Linked DNA regions of Homo sapiens: all the other regions are reported to be linked to region 2. The links are microRNA targets in miRTarBase. Many come from high-throughput screens and were not tested one by one. Region 2 holds a microRNA gene; each other region holds the end of a gene's coding sequence. Distances are between the middles of the regions.

Region 1 (3,732 bases), not on the chromosome of region 2:
TGAGACGGGTCTCACTCTGTCACCCAGGCTGGAGTGCAGTGGCTCAATGCAACCTCTGCCCCCCAAGTTCAAGTGATTCTCCTGCCTCAGCCTCTTGAGTAGCTGGGATTACAGGCACATGCACCACGCCCGGCTGATTTTTTTTTGTATTTTTAGTAGACAGGGTTTCACCATGTTGGCCAGGCTGGTCTTGAACTCCTGACCTCAGGTGATCCGCCCGCCTCTGCCTCCCAAAGTGCTGGGATTACAGGTGTAAGCCATCACACCTGGCCCTAGTGACAGGTTTTTATGGGTACTTTTAGATGATCTAAGAAATCATGTGCATATATCTTTCAGATTTCTATTTTGGGAAAATGAAGGTTTCTACAACATATTGTTTCAGTGTTCAAATAAACTGAAGGACTCAACATTACATTTGAACTATATCCTTCCTAGTGGGTTAGTGTGAAAAAGAGTTTGGCTGATTCCTAAAACTCTGCCAGCCCTGCAGTAATCTCCAGGGCCTGGTTATTGTTCAGACATTCCATGGTGATTCCTGGGAAGGAAGCTTGGCTGCTCAGTTTCTGAGTCTGGGGTGAGATAATGTTCTGGGAAGGGACATCTGTTCTTTGGTGTAATCTCTCATGGTGAAATCTGCTCTGTACATCAGACAATTGCATTGCTACCAAGTTTCATACCAAATATTTGAAAGGATGGTATTGAATCTAAAACCAAATATTAGTTTTTATTAAACTCATGGGAAGGCTAATATATTCCAACGTAAATTATTACATATGGTTAAGTAATTGCATGTTAATTTATTTTAATGTAAATATTTTTGTTACTGTTCTGAGCCAAATTCTAAAGAAAAAATAAATACATTTCCTTGTTGAAATCCTGTTGTATTTTGTTTTGTTCGTAACTCATTAGCCAAAAGCATTTTCCTTCCCAGAAGAGATTTAATTGTTGCACTGCTTACGTTTTGAAGGTTATATAACTTCCTTAAGGCCTCTAATATCATTGCTTTCTTAACCAAAAAAAGTCTATTAATAGAAAGCATGGCTGGGCATGGTGCCTCATGCCTGTAATCCCAGCACTTTGGGAGGCTGAGGCAGAAAGATTGCTTGAACCCTAGAGTTCGAGACCAGCCTGGGCAACATGCCAAAACCCCATCTCTACAAAACAATACAAAAAAAATTAGCCAGGCATGGTGCAGTCTCAGCTACTCAGGAGGCTGAGGTGGGAGGATCACCTGAGCCCGGGAAGTGGAGGCTGCAGTAAGTTAGTTATGATCATGCCATTGCACTCTAGCCTGGGCGACACAGTGAGACCCTGTCTCAAAAACAACAAAAACAAAACATTGCTATATATAACATTGAAAATTTGGCATAAAAAAGCAAAGTAGCCCCCAAGAAAGAGGTTTGAAACTAAGTGTTAAGCATTTACTGAGTCCCTAGACCCACTCCCTCTTTTTATGAGGCCCTATGTGGGTCTCATACAGGCATTAGAAACAATCCCAAATTACTATTGCTGTGTAACCTCAAAACTGAAGAGCTTAAAACAACAGTAATTGTTTCACGTCGTGGTTTCTGTGGGTCAGGATTTGGGAAAGGCTCAAACTTGACAGTTGTAGCTCAAGAGTATCCTGCACTTGTAGTTGTCAGCTGGAATAGCACGAGGCTGGCTGGCCAGGCATCTCCCAATGTGTGTGGTTACAGGGTCTCTCAGGTGGCCTCTCTGTGGGCTAGTTTGGGCTTCCTCACCACATGGGTAGCTTCAAAGGTAGAATTTTTTATGAGGCGGCTCAGGGCCACCAGCTAGTTGCTCCAACAAATCAACCATCAGCAGCACTGCCTTTTATGACCTAGCCTTGGAAGTCATCCCAGCATCACTTTTGTCACATTATTCAGTCACCTCTCCATCTAGAGAATGTCACAGATTTTGTTGACATTTAAAATTGCCACCTCCCACCTCAAGAAGCCCAGCTGGTGTGGGAGGCAAGACTGGTCCAGACGATGGCACCAAGACTACCAAAAATAAGCTGCCCCAGGTAGATGGCCATGGGAGTTCAGGGGAAGGGGGGTGGCCTTTGAACTAGTTCTTAAATTGGATTTTGACATTTGGAATGGGATTAGCAGGTCCCGTAGGAACAAAAGTCTGGGAACAATGATTGCTTGATTGTAATAAGATTTGACTAAAGGGGGAGGAATAAGCAGAGGCCAGAAATGTGGGCCAGGTCAAGGAAAGCCCAACTAAGCTTGGAAACGGGGAGGTAGCAGGAAAAGTAATGAAAGCTCCTTCCAGCCAAAAATAATTAACATTGAAGAGATAGTGGCCTTTCCTTCTTGGCAATGGCAACACCTAACCCCCATCCTGAGCATAGTATTACAGTTTACCTCAATCTCCAGTTTGGAAGTACCAGGTAGTTATAAGCAGATTACTGAAATATAGCTTTAATAATTGCTTGGAACATCACCTAAAACGAGCCAGGTACTATGCCAGGTTCTGAAGACAGATAATGAACTTACTGGTGTCTGAACAAAGCACGGGCTCCTGGAAACACCTGTGGTAGATCAGCATGGTCCAGTGCAGCTTTCTGCGACCATGGACATGTTCTATAACCTGTGCTATCCGAGTGCCACCTAACCACATATGGCTACTGAGCACATGAATTGTGACTAGGACTAGAAATGTATTTTAAATTCATTTAAATAGCCACATGGGCCTGGTGAATACTGCACTGGACAGCACAGGTCTAGATGAAGGATTTTACAAGAGAAATATGAACCAAGTGCTTGGGATGGCACAGAACCCAACATGTGCTACAGGACTCAACAGTAATGGGGCTAGCCACACATGAATGCCGTCCTGACTCAGGCTTACTGGCCGGATCCAAAGGAGTCAAGGTCTTACTAGAGTCTACGTGCCCCACAGACTCCTGCCGAAATATACTATCCAAGACCCTAAACTGAGGGACACTGGCAAGCAAGAGCCCATCTGGGAGAAAACGACTAGGTTGGTGAGAGGATTCACAGCTGTGTCTTAGGTAGATAATGAGGGGGTTAACCTTCAGCCACTAAACTCCCTTCTCAAATGAAAATGTCCACAGGATCCCACTCTAGATCCCGGTGCTATCTTAGTTCAAGGCAGGGCTGTGTGCCCAGTGGCTGTGCCTCCTCAGCCCTAGAAATTTCAAGGAAATTCCTCCTGGAAATTCCTTCCAACCTCACTCCAAACTACAACACATCTTGAGGTCAATAAAGAAGCTTCACATAATACAGTTTGAAACAGAAATTTATTCTCAGAATAATGCACAGAAGCACAGGTTGAGGCTACTCTTGGGAAGCTTCCCTCCCCTTCCTCTTCCTCCTCTCCCTCCTCTCTGAATGCCAGGGAGAACACAGTTGAAGGAAGGAAACATGCAATCACAAACAATGAACAACTCTAAAGACAAAAAGGTTTGGTCCAAAAGAACTCAACATAATTAATCCAATGACTGTGAAGAGCTTCACTGAGTAGGATTAAGATATTGCAGATGTAGTGTTTCCACAGGGTGGCTCTTCAGTGCACCAGCGGGGCCTGCTTGAGGGAGATGAGGACTGAGCGCATGCGGGAGACATCTTTGGCCTGCTTGCTAGACTTGGGGTTAAAGTCACACAGCCGGGCCACCCGTTCCCACTCAGTGCCTGGGGACGACTCGTCAATGTCATTTACAAAGGCTTCTTCTGCTGCCCTGGAAGCAACAACAAAATA
Region 2 (4,685 bases):
TTGAACTCTATCAACTCGATTTCCATATAGGTTTTAAAGTCTCAGTTTGGGTCACCACCTTCAATTAGCCTCTTTCCATTAACCATAACCACCCACTCAATTCCTCTCCCTCCTGCGAGGTATACAGTAAGCTTAGAGCAGCAGTTGGTATACAGTGAGCTCTCAGAAAAAGATGCCAGTGACGATGCTGATGACAACAAAGCCAATGGTAATAACAAAGACATAAAAATTAGGTTCTTCAGAGCAGGTGTTATTGTTACTTGTTTACTTATCTATGTTCACCTATTTGCTTTGAATTTATGATATATGCAGTTTCGTTGTTTATATAATGTAAGTAGAATTACACAGTACACCAGCCAGGCATCTGATCTTACCTGGGAAAACCAGGGCTAACACTTTTTACAACAGTGTGCTTTGTCCTTTCTTATTTTGAAATGTGTAAGTAACTGAAAAGCAAAAATAATTATATACATTATCAACATTAAGGATGGTGACATGAAAATCTCATTGGTTGCATCAGTTTGTGGATTCTAGGTTTACATACTTTTTAGAGTAGTTTTGCATGTGGCAATCAATAGGAAGCTCTCCCTTCAGCACAGCAGCTTGGGTCCATACACTCAGTGGGCTTGAACTATTGCAGAGATGGACCATTTCTCAAAGTTCCATGAAGAACAGCTCTGTAACTGTCTCTGTACTTCTAGAAACTGCCTGTAACCCAAAAGCAAACTGACTGTCCTACATCACAGTAGGAATTGCATAAGCATATGACCATTTCAAATCAGATTCCTTTCCTGTGGATTCCATGATTAGTGTGGATAAAATCAAGAATGTAAGCTCTATGAGAGCAGGTGGCTTGCCAGTTTGGTTCACTGCTGAATTTCCAGAACCTAGAAGAGTGCCTGACATGTGAGAGGCACTCAAAGTATTTGTCGACTGAAAAAAACTGATGATGTTTGGGCTGCTGACTACTGCTGTTGGTGGCAGCTTGGTGGTCGTATGTGTGACGCCATTTACTTGAACCTTTAGGAGTGACATCACATATACGGCAGCTAAACTGCTACATGGGACAACAATTAAGAGTTTTGTTTGTTTGTATGTTGAAAAATCATGTAAGATGGTTTATATGCAAAGCTTTGAAAACTGATGTTTATTCAGAAAAACAATATGCCCTTAATATCTCATTTCTATCTGAATGTGAACATATAATCATATTTTTATTTAACCCCCTGAAATAAGTAGTATAGACATAACACTTATAATAAGTAGGATATTTGAAGTCTCTTACATTGTTTGGTAGTTTCATCCAATCACTACTGGTTTTATTTTGTCTCTGTATTGCTGAAAATGATACCACCTTCCCAGCAATTCTTATTTGTATAAAATTATCAGCAAAAGTTTAACATTTAATAAACTTTATGAAATTTGTATATGTGTTATTTTTAAGCAGTAGTAATTCCATGATTGTAATTATATATATATAATATACATAAAATCATACATATACATATATTTATATGTTTATATCTATCTATCTGTCTGTCTATCTATCTATCTATCTATCTATCTATCTATCTATCTATCTATCTATACAGTCAGCCCTCTGTATCCATGGGTTGTACATCCATAGATTGAACCAATCTTGGATAGAAAATATTCAGGAAAAAATTGTATTGTAAACATACAGACTATTTTTCTTTTTATTATTTCCTAAATAATACAGTATAACAACTATTTACATCATATTTACATTGTACTAGGTATAAATAATCTGGGGATGATTTAAATAATACAGGAGGATGTACATAGGTTATATGCAAATACTACACCATTTTATATGAAGGACCTAAGCATCCTCAGATTTTGGTATCCACATATGCAAATACTACACCATTTTATATGAAGTACCTAAGCATCCTCAGATTTTGGTATCCACAGGAGGTCCTGCAACCAATCCCCTGAGTATACCAAGGGATGACTGTATGTATAAACGTAATGCCCCAATGGGTATGTTATTTTAGGAAGAAGGCCACTGAGACATTCATCTACTGTTGGGAAAATTCCATCTTCAGTGCTCAAATATGAACCAGACCAGGAACTGATGCAGATTATTACTGCTCATCTGACAACAGAGGTTCTAATTTTTCATTCCTTCAGTGTTGAAACAATCTCTACTGAACCAGCTTCAAACAAGTTCACTGGAGTTTGTTTCAATATTGCAAGAATGATAAGATGGAAGCTACTTTCATCAGCATGAATTATAACTACTCGTATACAGATTGTCGTATTTCCACTGTTACTGATGTTAAAACTGCATTAAAGCAAATAAAAATATAATTGAAAATACAAGCATAGGGTTTTCTACTTGTTATCCTCGGACATACTATTTGCCTATGGTTTCCATGAATTTCCAACTAGAGCAAGAAAATCTCTTGGTTGGTTGTCAGCCATATAAAAAGAGAATTCAGAATGTTACTTTTGGGAAGAAAGCCAGATTTAAACAAAATACTTCCCAGTGTTTAGCATATCTAATACAAGTGACAGATAAGATTTATATATGACATCATGTTCCATCTTCTAATTCGATTTGAAGATGGTGAGAAAATGGTCCAGAAATTAATAATACATCAAATGATCATTCTCATATTAACTGAAGATTTTAGAGCCACAAAAGAAGAATCTAAAATAAATGTATAAGTTGAACCAATAATTAATATCTCTATTGTGAAGGCATCATGATCCATTCTTGTTTTGATGGTTGCCTAATATGTAATTGAATTTTTAAAACACACATATTCATACAAAAGTTGAGTAATAAACTAAAAAAAGAAACCTCAACATGGAATCCCTTCAAATTACTCTTTTTTAAAAATTTTGCAAATCGTGTTCCAATTCCATTAGGAATATCTAAGAATTTTATGACTGATGATTCTTTATTGTTCATAATTTCAAGTATCAGAAATATATTTTATAGTGTTGGTCCATCTTGCCAGACTGTAAGCTCTATGAGAGCACAGTCTACACTTATTTTATTCAGCACTGTATCCTCAGCATCTGGCACAATGTTGGGCTCATCAAGTTTGATCAATATTTGCTGACTGATCTGAAGACCAGTGGGGAAAGTGTCATATATCAAAAGAATTGTGTTCAGCTACACTGGTAAAGGATTTGCACAGTTATAATCATTTTTATGGGTTCATTACTTTCTCTTCTGACATAAATTCAAGAGACATTAAAATTAGAAATCAACAAAATGTTTAAAGAGTAGTGTCAACCTTATTCACAATTGGTGTCCATTTGAAGTTATCACAGTAATGTTATAATAATGATAAGTATTCACCCTCTTCTCTTTGCAAGATATTTCCACTAGGATGGCTTGCTACCATCTCCAAATCTAACCCAAAATAGGACTTACTTACCAAGGGGGAGAAGTTCCCCCTAATAAGGTTTTCCTTTCCCAGCATCTTCCCTTTCTTGGGAACTATTTTTTTCCCCAAATATCTAGGCTAATTATCTGGGCTATTTGACTATTACTGTTTCCCATTCCTTGTATTCAAATATGCCTTCATGTTTTTATTATTGAGAAGGTGCTAAGAGTGGTACTTTCTTGTTCCAACATGGACTGATCTAGTCCAGCCAGGCCTTCAACTTCCTGGCTGCCCCCACCCCACCCCGCAACTTTAACCTGTGGACATCTGATGCCTGCTGCATGAATTTTACTAAAAATTCTCCTTTCACAACCTTCACTGATCAAAAATCTACAAAACATCTTTATCATATATATTATGTTATATACCATGTTTTAACAATATTAGCTAAAATGTTTTGAACCTTTCATGTCCCTGACACTTGGTGTTTATTGTCTTGTTCATCCTCACAACATGACAGATGATAAATATTATTCTTACCGCTCTTCTTATTTTACGTTTCCTAGGTTGAGGAAACAGATCTAGTGAGAGGTTGCTAACCTGCTCAAAGTGACAAAACAAGTTTTAACTCTTTTTTTGTTATCTGAAGATTCAGATAATGCAGTCTTGAAAGCAAAGTCCTGACCTTCTTACCCTCAAATATGCTCCCCTTCAGGCAAGATGGTTTTCTCACAGTGGCTCATGCATGTCATTTCCAACCTCCAGACTTTTGTGGGAAAGGTCCCTCCATCCCAAAAGGCTTCTCGACCCCCCCTTGTGCCTATGCAGAAACTTCCCACACTCAAGATACAATTCAAATTCTACCTTGTATCTGTAGCCATCCTGAATATTTTTGCTCCCTACTCTCTCCAAACTCTGAATTTTGATTGGATTCTGTGCTGGACAGCTTAGCAGTTAGTGATGTGCTGTCGTGTAGGACATATACAATGACACACATGGAAAACAGTGAGGATTCACCATGAAGAGCCAGGAATATACATGTCAACTTAATAGGGATGAGTTTTGTTTAGAAACTAGCACATATAGAAGAGTACATAACACCACTTCTGCCATCAATACAATTGGAGAAACTTCAATCTTAGAATTGAAATTTCAACGGGTATGATAGAAATTAAGCAGCATTCCTAAATTTAGAAAAAGGAAAGTCAGTGCAGGCTGATGTTTTTAGGTCTCCTCAAAAAAAGAAAAAAAAATCTCTATGCAGAACATGGATATTAAAAATTCGCAGATTCCAACACCACTAAAAACATTGGTCATAGC
Region 3 (3,732 bases), not on the chromosome of region 2:
CATCACTATAAATGGTAAACCTCAATCATTAAGTAGTACTGTGTTCCCCAGGCTGAGAACTTGGCTAAACCAGATGAATGGGGCTTGAGAGGCCCTTGAAAACATTCCATGGAAGACAATGGTAAGGGAAAACGCCTAGGCCTGATTTTCTGCCCTCCCTCTTATCACCAGCCACCCTGCCCCCCTCAGGCCTGGATAATGGGTGGAAGACACCACCAAGTGTTTATGATCAAAGAAACTATAAAACATGGTTCTTAGGCTCTGAGATACTTCCTGCTTCCCTCACAAACATGCTTATGTTTGGTGTGCATGCACATTTGCCTATCAGCACATATAAAGAGACAGTGGAAAAGTCAGAAGTGTTTTCAGGTTATTTTCTTTAAAAAAAAAAAAAAAAAAAAAAAAAAAAAAAAAAAGCAAAAACCATGGACCTGGTAGCACTCCAATTTCCCATGATCCCACCCCCAACCCCTCTACACAATAGAAACTGCACATATAAAAGAAAGCCTTCTCTAGTCAGGTCAGCCTCCCAGAATGATGGCCTCTGCTGAGTAGAAGCAAGACCCAGTCCCTGGAACACTGGATAGACAGTAGGCATGTGCTGCCTCTCAGAATACCCATTTACTTTCTGTCAACTTCAAAAGCCAAGCCCATCCCTCCAGGGAATGGTTTCAGTTCCCGGCTGGGAAGGTTTCCGGATTCTTGGAGGCTAGTACAGTGATTTCCTAGAAGTGAACACAGAAATACTACCCCCTTCTCCCGACAACACACACACACAGACATACACATGCACACATGCATCTCTGGGATCCCAGTGCTCCAGGGCCTGAGAGGCATCAGTGTAACCCAGGTTCTGAGTGTGTCCCATAAATTGGAGATTCAGTCTAGCTCACTCCTACTGCACCAGCCTCAACCTGAGAGCTCACTCCAACTGAGTCCCTTCACCATCCATTCTTGGGATGCATCTGAAAGAGAAAGCACTGGTTGGAACTGCTATTTTTAAATTATTAAAATAATTTGCATAGCTAAATTGTAGATCTAAGGCTTCCATGAGTAGAAGAGTTAAGTGTCTGGCAGGGTGCTTATGAAAACACAAAGCTTCTTAAGTTCCACTTTTGGTGTTATTGGACAGCAGACAAACACACATATACACATGCACCCCATCCATCATCTCCTTGTCTCTTCTCTGAGGACAATACCCCAGAGTCTGCTAAGGCCCTCCAAAGATGGAAATGGGCTGGTCAGAAGAGCTGTAGGAGCTACTACTGGGATGACCTGACTAAGCTGCCTTCTGGGCTGGGAAGAGGCAGGTACACCACCTGCCCAGTAAGGAGGGAGCCATGGGTAAGTGGTAAAGCTCTAAAGCCAAAGTTTGTTCATCATAAAGAACTGTCTGGCAAAGTGTTGGGGTGGGGGATACAGAGGGGGCGGGGACACCAGTAGGAAGACAGCCAGTGTTTATGCTTAAGGACTAGACGACCCTCCCCTGGCAATGGCAATAAGGGGAGACCCAGAATGACTGGTGTGTTCTTTTAAGATAAAACCCAGACTTAGGGCTCCTACAGAGAAAGGGCTCCTCCATGTTCCTTCAAAGATGGAGGCAGCAGACACCAGGCCTACATGGACCACCTGAAGATATTTTCGAACATGAAATCAACAGTCCCTCAACCCAGCAACCGCCTATCCACAGCTTCACTATTCAGCATAGAGAGCCAACATCTAACATCATCCCAGGAGGACACAGCTCCAAATCTGGGGTCTCTTACTTCCCAATTGCAAACTCCATGATCACAACTTTCGATTTCTGTGGAATGAGTCCCACCCTCCACTAACTATCCAGTCTCAGGATTCCCTGATCTTCCTGAAAAGCCATCTCTCAAAAATATAGTTGTTTAATCCAAACCTTGGTCAAACCTAACTCTTCCCCTGGTCAATTTACCATCCATCCAGGATTGTTTTTCACCAGTGGCTATAGGGTCTGGGATATCTTAAAACTTCCCTTTCTATCACCTACCCTCCTTACCCCTAACCTCCCCCCACCCCCAAATAAACAAGACACATGAAAAGTCCAAGTAATAAATAATTGCCCATAAGAAATAAATTAACATGGAGCTCTCTAAAGGGGAAGGAAAGGAACAGAAAAGACTACCAGGATAGGCAGCTGGGGGCTCAGTTCTACCCTGGTGAAAAATGTATTTTCCAGCCACAACTCTGCGACCTTTCATTCACGTACTGCAGTGCTTCTCCCTCCCAGCCTCTGCACACAGACAACCTTCCAAGCTGGAAAGGGAGAGCTGCTCAGAGATAGCCACCGGGGTTAAGAGACATAGATTGGTAATGCCCATTTTCTCTCATGAATTTCCCCAAATTCTCACACAAATGTGGCTCTGAATACCAGGGACTTGAGTTAGCTGGGCCTTCTCTTCACCCATCCCGAAGGAAACTTGTTATTTCCATGGCTCTTCTGGGCTCACCCTGATGTTCACACTAGGTGCCATGAACCACCAAACTGACTTCCATTTAAAGAAAGATAAATTCATTTTTCAGTTTCCCTCTTAGTTCTTCCCTCCCTCCCCTCCCACCTTCACCCCTGCTCTGTTCCATACATACACATACAAAATAAACATACACACACACACTCACAAACACACATACCTGGTCAGCTTCCTTCCCACCCCCTAAAAAGACCCCACTTCACATGGGATCACAGTCTGCTCCCCCTACCCACCCTCCTTCTCTCACTCATTCTCCCTTCCTTCACTCCCCTCCCCAGGCCAAGCTAAGTCACCTAGTAAGGCAGCTCTCTTGGGAAAGAATGTTCCCAAAGACAGAAATGGGATGTGCGCTTCTACACTCAGATGGGCGAGCAAGCAAGCAGACAGCATAAGCAAGGCAGGAAGGAAAAGAGGCTGCACTGCCCCTCCATCCCTGTTTTGGGTCCCTGATTTCCCGCTATTGCTGCTGTGTTGGACTTTTTTTTTTTTTTTTTTTTTTTTGCCTCTTTTGTTAAACAGCAACAGAGCTCTGCCACTTTGGCCAACCACCCTCCTTTGTCCTCTTCCTTTTCCCTCCTGCCAAGTGTCCTATTCTCAAAAGGTCTAAATCACTGCCTTTCAGCTTGGTGGGCAACCTGCTGGGGGCCCCAAGTGAGGTGGGGAGGGGCTCCCTAGCTATTTCCCAGTGACCTCTATCACATCATCGTCTTTATCCTCATCATCATTGGAGCTGAACCCAACCTCGGCAACCTCATGAGAGTCAAATGGAGGCACCTGGGACCGTAGGAGGCCACCAGCTGGGTAGCCTGCATGTGGGGACATGTAGCCTGGATAGATAGACATGCCCCGCGAAAGGTTGCTGGGCAAGACAGGGGAAGGAAAAGGCGCAAACATCCTCGGCTCGGACAGGAGTGGCTGTGAGAATGGGAGTGAATAGCTGGGTAGTATCCCTGGCACAGAAGGGTTGAGCATGAAGGAGGGGTTGCTGGCAGTGACTGAGGTAGCCGTGGAAGAGGAACTGACGGGGCCTGCTGGCACCAGAGGGTCAGTAGTCACTGGAAACACCAGGCGGGCATCTGCCAGCAAATTGGACAGCTGGTAGTAGGAGGGGGTACTGCCCATAAACAGGGAGTTCTCCCCAGCCTGGGAGGTGAAGGGGGTGGTGAGGTTATGGTTTAAGGAGACGGGTGGCATGGCAAACCCGCCAGAGACTGGATACCCGTGTTCATACGGCTGC
Region 4 (3,732 bases), not on the chromosome of region 2:
TTTTGTGGCCTAGTCTTTCGAGGACCCTTGTCTGTTCAGGAAGACTGGATTAAGCACTTACAACGACATATTGTAAACGCTAATCTTCCACGGACTGGAGCTGGCATGGTGGAAGTCACGTCACTACTTAAAAAGCCTGCCTCCATTACAGAAACTTCATTTTCTCTACTAATGGCCGAAGCAGCTTCATAGAACCAGGAAACCTTTTAAATAGCCAGTTTGAATTGGATGTAAATTTGAAATTCTTTTTTTTTAAGCCACATTAAATTATCTGTTTATAAATACTAAAGCAGGAAAATGGGGGGAAAGTGAATTACAGTGACATCAGAGCAAATTGAATACTTAAAACAGTAAGTAGTCTATATATTTTATATAGGGTGGAAGATGTGTTTTTAAGGTTTATGAAGTTTTGTTGGTTAACTGTGTTCACTCAGTAAAAGAGCAGTACATGTAAGCAGCCATTAATAAACTGTTGCACATGGATACTTATAGACAGACTTATTGGACAATTATGTTTTTTGCAGTGTTACCAGAATCAAGGCTCTGTTTATTCCCCACAAGACTTGCATAGAAAAATAAGATATTATATTTTGTTTGTATGTATTTAGTGTTTTGTATAATACCAAGAACCGCTGACTAAATTTACTCAAATTAGGGCATTAAATATCATGTACTTCATAGTTTGAGACTGTTCACTCAAATAGGGCAGAGTACTATTCTATCTAGATGTGTAAGTGTTTTTTTTAAAATCACATGGAACGGTTTTTTTTATACTAAAAAGTGGAGGGAGATTTGTTTAAACAAGTATTTCTAAAAGAAATATGTACATAGTTCTGGAAATTATTTGTGGTAAGGAAATATTCTTTACTCCAGTTGCATTTCTCAGACAATAAAGTGGTGCATCCATGCTACCTCCTACTTTGTCAACAAAGATGCTATTTACCCTTTACATTTTTGTATCATAATAGATTTTAAAAATCTAATGTTCTTTATTGCAAGACATTCTTTTGTTAACAGGTTTGTTTCTTTTTAATGTTTTACCTAAAATTTGACATGCTTACAGGACAGGTTTGCCTCTTACTTTATTTAACATTGTAGAAATGTAATTAATAAACAATGCTCACTACACAGTTTAGAATAGACGTTCTCATTTATATTATCTTCCAAATTTGATCAGTTAGCAAAACTTAATACACCAATTAAAATATTTCTACATATGAGAATGTTTACAATTTAAATTTTAGAACTTGTTTTGGATGTGATTATATGTACGAAAATCGTGTAACACTATGCTCATGCTAAGAACCGACATAACAGAATTACTGAAATAAATGTGCTGTGAGGAATGGAAAATATGGTGCAGGTGTCTTGGTCATGATAAATTGTGATTCTTTTTAAAAATTTTTTCCAAAAACAATTAGGTATTTTAATCTGAAATCAGATTCCTTTACAAACAACAAGTTTTTGTATGCAAGCACCATTTTATTTCATGTAGTATGGCTAATACTATAGTTGAACCAAGGATATGCATTGATTCTTTGCTTCGTATGTAAATAAAGTTAAAAACAGTTAAAATAAGGAGTATTTTGGTAGAGTATATACATACCTCACTGCCAGTGAAATTGCTTTCCTATGGTATATCTCCTTACCAGAAAAATCTCTAAATAAAAAAAGGTTTAAAGAAAATTAAAATGTGAAACATTTCTTATTTTTATCATTGGTGGTAATAGTTCACTTCAGGTTGTGTTTCATTGGATTTAAATTGTTTATCCTTGCCAGGTTACTTGGATCACAGAGCATAGTTTTTCTAGAATCACCTCATTGGTCAATATAATGTATGTGAGAAAAATCATTTTCCCCCTTTCATGATTAATCAAACCTCTAAATTCAGAGCCATCTTATATGCAAAATTAGAAGGTTGGACTAGTTGGATCATTCCCAACCAAGGGTCTCCTGATCCTTAGGTTAATAGATAAGGGAATAGTACTTGTAAGTTATTTTCAATTTTACAAAAGTCCCGATAAAAACTATGTATTTGTCTATAGTGACAAAACTAACTAAAACATCCCATTTCTTTACTTTTGACTGAAAATATACCAAGTCTGTATATATTGGTTATCTCTTACTGAACAAGTTTCGTTGATAGTTATATGTCTTTGAATATATATTTTTAAATTGGAAGACATACTACATAGCAAGTGGAGTCCAGAAGTAAAAACCAAACAAACAAACAAAAATCATAGGAATCTTGTGGGAAGGCTAGTAATCACTAGAGCCCCTTTCCACTCTAATTCTTTTTTTTTTTCTTTAAAGACAGAGTTTTACTCTGTCACCCAGGCTGGAGTGCAATGGTGTGATCATATCTCACTGCAGACTCAACCTCTCAGGACTCAAGTGATCCTCCCACTTCAGCCTCCCAAGTAGCTGGAATTAAAAGCACATGTCATCACTCTTGGCTAGTTTTTGTATTTTTCGTAGAGACAGAGTTTTACCATGTTGCCCAGGCTGTGCTTGAACTCCTGGGCTCAAGAGATCCTTCCGCCTCCGCCTCTCAAAGTGTTGAGATTACAGGCATGAGCCACCACACCTGGCCTCCTAATTCTTACACTTCTATGATTTTGTCTTATCAGGCCAAATATCAACATGTGTGAATACAAGTAGAAGAATTAGTTTGACCACAAGTTTCGGAATCAAAACTACATTTAATTTTAAAATATGTTGAACTATATGTAAACAATTATTTCTCCTTCTAGTTATATAAAGAATTCAGTCATCAGAATAAAATATTTCACATCAGAAACAGTAGACTAGAGTGACTCCTGAAAAGTAAATTAAGCAAAGAGCATTTTTCATAGTAAAGATATTTGGGTTACAAAATTTAAAGAATTCTTTAGGAAGCATTCAAAATTCGTCTTTTATTTGGCAACTAGAAAATTAATAATATGTTTTCATTTGGTTCCCACTAGAAGAAAAGTATAAAATATTGTCTCAATTTACATGATAGATTTTTATGTCAGCATATGGCCTGATTTATCATTCAGTATTGACTAATTTTCTTTTAATTCTTTTACCATTGCCTGAGATATGCAAGCTTCTAATGCTAAATTAGGGCTTTAAAAAATTCCAGTCTGGGCCAGGCGCAGTGGCTCACGCCTGTAATCCCAGCACTTTGGGAGGCCGAGGCGGGCGGATCGCGAAGTCGGGAGATCGAGACCATCCTGGCTAACACAGTGAAACCCCGTCTCTACTAAAAATACAAAAAAATTAGCAGGCGTTGCTGCGTGCGCCTCTAGTCCCAGCTGCTGGGGAGGCTGAGGCAGGAGAATGGCATGAACCTGGGAGGTGGAGCTTGCAGTGAGCCAAGATGGTGCCACTGCACTACAGCCTGGGTGACAGAGCAAGACTCCGTCTCAAAAAAAAAAAAAAATTCCAGGCTGCAGTGTTGATTTATTTAATGGCTTCAAGACAAAAAGGTTAACTTCTATGTATTATTTTCCACTATACTTCTTTAGAGTATATTAGAACTGTGGCATAACTCATATCTGTATTTTAGATTTTACTTATTTAATTATGGGTTGGGGAGATAATGATTTCTCAGTAATTTACTAGACAAACTTTTTTAAAGGACATATACATAACTTCTCAAGGACTGTCCAATTAGAATACAAAGTCCAAAGGATCACTCTGGGTTTTTCCTCACTAAGAAAATGTAATAGACCAGGCACAGTAGCT
Region 5 (3,732 bases), 56 Mb from region 2:
GAACCACCGGCGGCTGCACACAGGCGAGCGGCCCTTCAGTTGTCCTCACTGTGGCAAGAGCTTCATCCGCAAGCACCACCTAATGAAACACCAGCGCATCCACACCGGGGAGCGGCCCTACCCCTGCTCCTACTGTGGCAGGAGCTTCCGCTACAAACAGACACTCAAGGACCACCTCCGTTCAGGCCACAATGGAGGCTGTGGGGGTGATAGTGACCCATCAGGTCAGCCACCCAACCCACCAGGTCCCCTCATAACTGGGCTTGAAACTTCTGGCCTGGGTGTCAACACTGAAGGTCTAGAGACCAACCAGTGGTATGGGGAAGGGAGTGGAGGGGGAGTTTTGTAAATCCAAATCTCTGTGGCTTCATGCTTGTATATGCTCACAGCAGGGCACAAAATCCAAGAGAAGGTCTGTGAGCCCCATCCAACACCCACAGTAATTATTATCTGGCACATCAATGAATTTGGGGTCCTATACACTTGACTAGAGACATGCTTGTGTTTTGGAATTTCACACCCTTACAAGAATACCACATTTTGAAACCCAGAAAGACCTGGAAAGGAGCCCAGCATGTCCATCTTTTCAAAGATACAACAAAAGCAGAAGTTACAAGAATATTGCGGAGAGGTTGGAAAGCAGGATTTAACCTCTAGTTCTCTTGTTCTCAGAGAACAGCAGGTTGATAGTAGATTATGTCTCTAGGTAGAGACAGATACATGAGAAGAGCCTCCAAAACTGGAAGCCCATCATAAGGCATGAGAATGTTTAACTATAAAGCCTTTTATTAGTTCTTTGATAGCTAAGATGGTTGTTGGAGAAAGTGCTTAAGCCACTGTTTATGTTGCTGCCTCCTCTCTCAAAACCAGCCAAGATCTGTTCACACACCTCTGTGGCTGTCTTTCCCTGAAACATGGTAACTCAAGACTGCCTGCCTAGGTTTCTTAGATTAATTATTCACATAAATTTTGTTTAATATTGGTTGAACAAGAAATCTGACTTTAAAAGATTATTAAGGAGAATATTCCTTAACTATACTGGCTTGATTTGAAACAGGCTCTTATTGCCATTTAAACTGCCAGAAATCTTTGCCAAGGTCCTGGTTAAAAAAATTGGAAACGGTTTTCTTAGCCCCAGCTTTAAAAGCTAGAGATCTCAGAGAAATAGCTGGCTTAACAATGACAGAACAGCTTAAAATTTGTGCCTACACCATGTTCTGAGAGTCGTTCACATCAAATTCTTATCTTTTCCAAGCCAGTAAGTTGGCTTCTCCATTCCTGGTGTCTGATATTCTTGACAATCATCAGCAACAAAGATCACAGCACTTTCCAGAAGCATGGAGCTTCAGAAAGTGCCAGTGAACTCTTGGTCCTCAGTAGTGAGATGATAACAGTGTTATAATGCAGCTTCCTTGAGCCATCAGAGAGAGTGTATGTTCACCCTATCTGGCTGTATCCCATTGGCAGTGGACAGATTGAGGAAATTCCTAGATCACTGAGAGCTAAGCACCATGCATAGACAACAGTTTGTTCTTGCCTGTGTTGCTTTTAGGGACTTTGACTACCACATGTTCTTTTCTTGGGGTGATTTAATCACCTGGGAGCATCTGAGTCTGCTCCTAAGTGGCTTTGCAACTGGGCCTAAGTTCTGTTTCCTTTATGGATCTCAAATTTTCATCTGCACAATGAGGCTGTTGAAAGGAAAAAAAGTGAGCCTCTAGGAATTATTCAAAAAAAGTCTGTGATACATTCCTTTTCCTGCCAAAGTTCTGTCTCTGTCTTTGGCTTCTGTCCAGGCAAAGCTAAATAAGACAGCAAAGTCAAAGCAGATAAATTCTTGTTGAAACTTGACTAAAATTTATTTGATTTGTTGTTTTACTCCCACTTGGAATCCTGAGGTAGAAGACAGAATGCAGAAGTCTTACATCTTGGGCAGGAAACTGGTTTATTCCTATACTCTTGTTTCCTCTGCTTCTTCCTGAGGTCTAGAACAAGGTCTGGAAATGTTTAGACAGGATATTTTCTTGATGAAGTGATAAGGAAAGGACCCATTTTTTTGCTCATCACCTAGCCCATCCTTCACTCTCTCTAGTTATGCATAACAACACTAGAAGAAGGTGTTAGCCCAGCTAACTTTGCTTCTGGGAAGGCTATGTCTGAACATGTTGCTCTGTAGGATAATCACACTTAGAAAACATCTGCTCCATGACATTCACAATACCAGGGACCATGGGAGACACAAGAAATGTGTGTCTGCTGTCATAACTTACAGTGAAAAAGCCCAATAATACAGAACAAGACATGATGGGCAATACCCTAGCATATTGGGATTAAGAGCTTTCTAGCCAGAATCTGGACCTATACCATGGGAAAATTTAGGGGTGCTGGGAATCCCAAAGCCAAGGTTCTGGCTTCATTGGCAACCCACTAGGAACTTGAATGTGAGATTCAGCTCTAGTTTGCACCTTGATTTCCCCAGTGAAAAGGGAGAAGAGCCAAAGTATTGTCTAGGTGCTGAGTTCCCTTTTCTGAGTGGATTTCAAGCATTTGCCAGGGTATGCTGGAGGAGGGACTCCTAAAGTAGGTGAGATGTGGGACTAGGTAACACTTTAAATACTTTTTTACTCAAAGATTTGCCAAGAACACAGCTTATTAGTGAAAGAGACCTGTGGATTGAAATGGCTGCAGATAGATCCCGCAGTCCCTTCTGAAAGGAACTGTGTAGCCAGCAGGGACCTAAACTTTGGCAAAAAGTGAACACAATTCAAATACGAATGAAGGAAGAGCCCTCAGATGGAACGAAAGGCGATGTGCAAGGCCATCCCAGAGAGACGGAAGCAGGTGCGATACTAAGCCTCAGCCCAAGAATAAAAGAGAGTTCAACTGTTACTCTTTTCTTTCATCAATCCCCTATCAGTTAGAACTGCAGGCCAGTTCCAAAGAGTGTTTGCTTAAGATTCAAAAGTGGGTAAGTAAAATGGATCAGTGGGAAGGATAAGGTGTCCAACAGAAAGTGTGGAGGAGAAACTCTTGGCCTATCAAGTGCTCCTGAGAGAAACCATGCAATTTAACACTTCAGTTAAAGAAATACATGAGAACTGCTTGTCATGACCAGACAAGATAGGAAAGGGGAAACCCCAGAAACGTGCTCTTCATCTGTCAGCCTTTTGGACCAAGAAGCTGTCACTATCACACATAAGCACCATTCCCTTAGAGTGGATCCAGGTGTTGACTATAACCAGATTTACTCTTTGCTTACTAGGTTTTCCATTGTCACCATTGGATGAACCTCTGGTTTAGCCACAGTTGTGAAAATAAATGGAAGTTGGTTGATTGTCTAGAAAGTGCAAGAAGATGGCCCTGCTCCTTTTCTGCTGAACATTTAGTATTGGAAACTCCTACTTCCCTTTTCATTAATAATGTGTGCAAGTTTCCTATTAGCGGGGAAGGTGTGGGGCTCTGCTGGGCTTCTCTTGAGCATATCTGAGAAGTGATGTTCATGTCTATCTCAACCAGGACCAGACCCTGTGACTTACTCGGTAATAACAGTCCACACAAGCCTCGTTGATATTAAAAAAAAAAAAAAAAAAGGACCTCATTCCAAATGGAATGGGAATCCCTAATTTCTGCTCAGATTTTCTCTGAGGAGGGGCAGGACTCCTGCCCTTCCTCTCATGTCTTAGCTTCTTAAACTACAAAAAGCATCCTCAGTGACTGCCTGAGGGCAGCTCA

Evidence for each region. Region 2 holds the annotated microRNA hsa-miR-653-3p (UUCACUGGAGUUUGUUUCAAUA, at 2,192-2,213, shown strand). A microRNA usually pairs through its seed, bases 2 to 8, with sites in the 3' UTR of a target mRNA and lowers its output. Matches are read on the target gene's strand: a 7mer-m8 pairs with bases 2 to 8, a 7mer-A1 pairs with bases 2 to 7 and ends in A, and an 8mer does both.
Region 1: the mRNA of CLTA is a reported target of hsa-miR-653-3p. Seed matches in the 3' UTR shown: 7mer-A1 at 3,487-3,493.
Region 3: the mRNA of RAD54L2 is a reported target of hsa-miR-653-3p. The part of its 3' UTR that is shown has no 7-base or 8-base seed match.
Region 4: the mRNA of ZNF644 is a reported target of hsa-miR-653-3p. Seed matches in the 3' UTR shown: 8mer at 1,614-1,621.
Region 5: the mRNA of ZNF398 is a reported target of hsa-miR-653-3p. Seed matches in the 3' UTR shown: 8mer at 1,356-1,363, 7mer-A1 at 2,270-2,276 and 8mer at 2,476-2,483.

What each region holds. Positions count from the first base shown.
Region 1 is chr9:36,211,583-36,215,314 of GRCh38, reverse strand. CLTA (clathrin light chain A) reads right to left here. Exons shown (of 5, transcript NM_001833.4): 5 at 3,256-3,712. The coding sequence ends at 3,541. GNE (glucosamine (UDP-N-acetyl)-2-epimerase/N-acetylmannosamine kinase) reads left to right here. Exons shown (of 12, transcript NM_005476.7): 12 at 1-874. It overlaps LOC124902151 (a long non-coding RNA gene), which reads left to right and starts at 1,304. Exons shown (of 2, transcript XR_007061474.1): 1 at 1,304-2,029.
Region 2 is chr7:93,480,312-93,484,996 of GRCh38, reverse strand. MIR653 (microRNA 653) reads left to right here and starts at 2,142; the gene lies at 2,142-2,237. All of the region lies in intron 3 of CALCR (calcitonin receptor), which reads left to right. MIR489 (microRNA 489) reads left to right here and starts at 978; the gene lies at 978-1,061.
Region 3 is chr3:51,662,859-51,666,590 of GRCh38, reverse strand. RAD54L2 (RAD54 like 2) reads right to left here. Exons shown (of 23, transcript NM_015106.4): 23 at 1-3,732. The coding sequence ends at 3,171. Among named protein-coding and RNA genes, the nearest start is that of TEX264, 6.5 kb to the left of the region's middle. RefSeq lists an enhancer at 3,404-3,732.
Region 4 is chr1:90,913,258-90,916,989 of GRCh38, reverse strand. It overlaps ZNF644 (zinc finger protein 644), which reads left to right. Exons shown (of 6, transcript NM_201269.3): 6 at 1-1,686. The coding sequence ends at 192. Among named protein-coding and RNA genes, the nearest start is that of LINC01763, 63 kb to the right of the region's middle.
Region 5 is chr7:149,179,453-149,183,184 of GRCh38, forward strand. It overlaps ZNF398 (zinc finger protein 398), which reads left to right. Exons shown (of 6, transcript NM_170686.3): 6 at 1-3,590. The coding sequence ends at 349. Among named protein-coding and RNA genes, the nearest start is that of ZNF282, 14 kb to the right of the region's middle.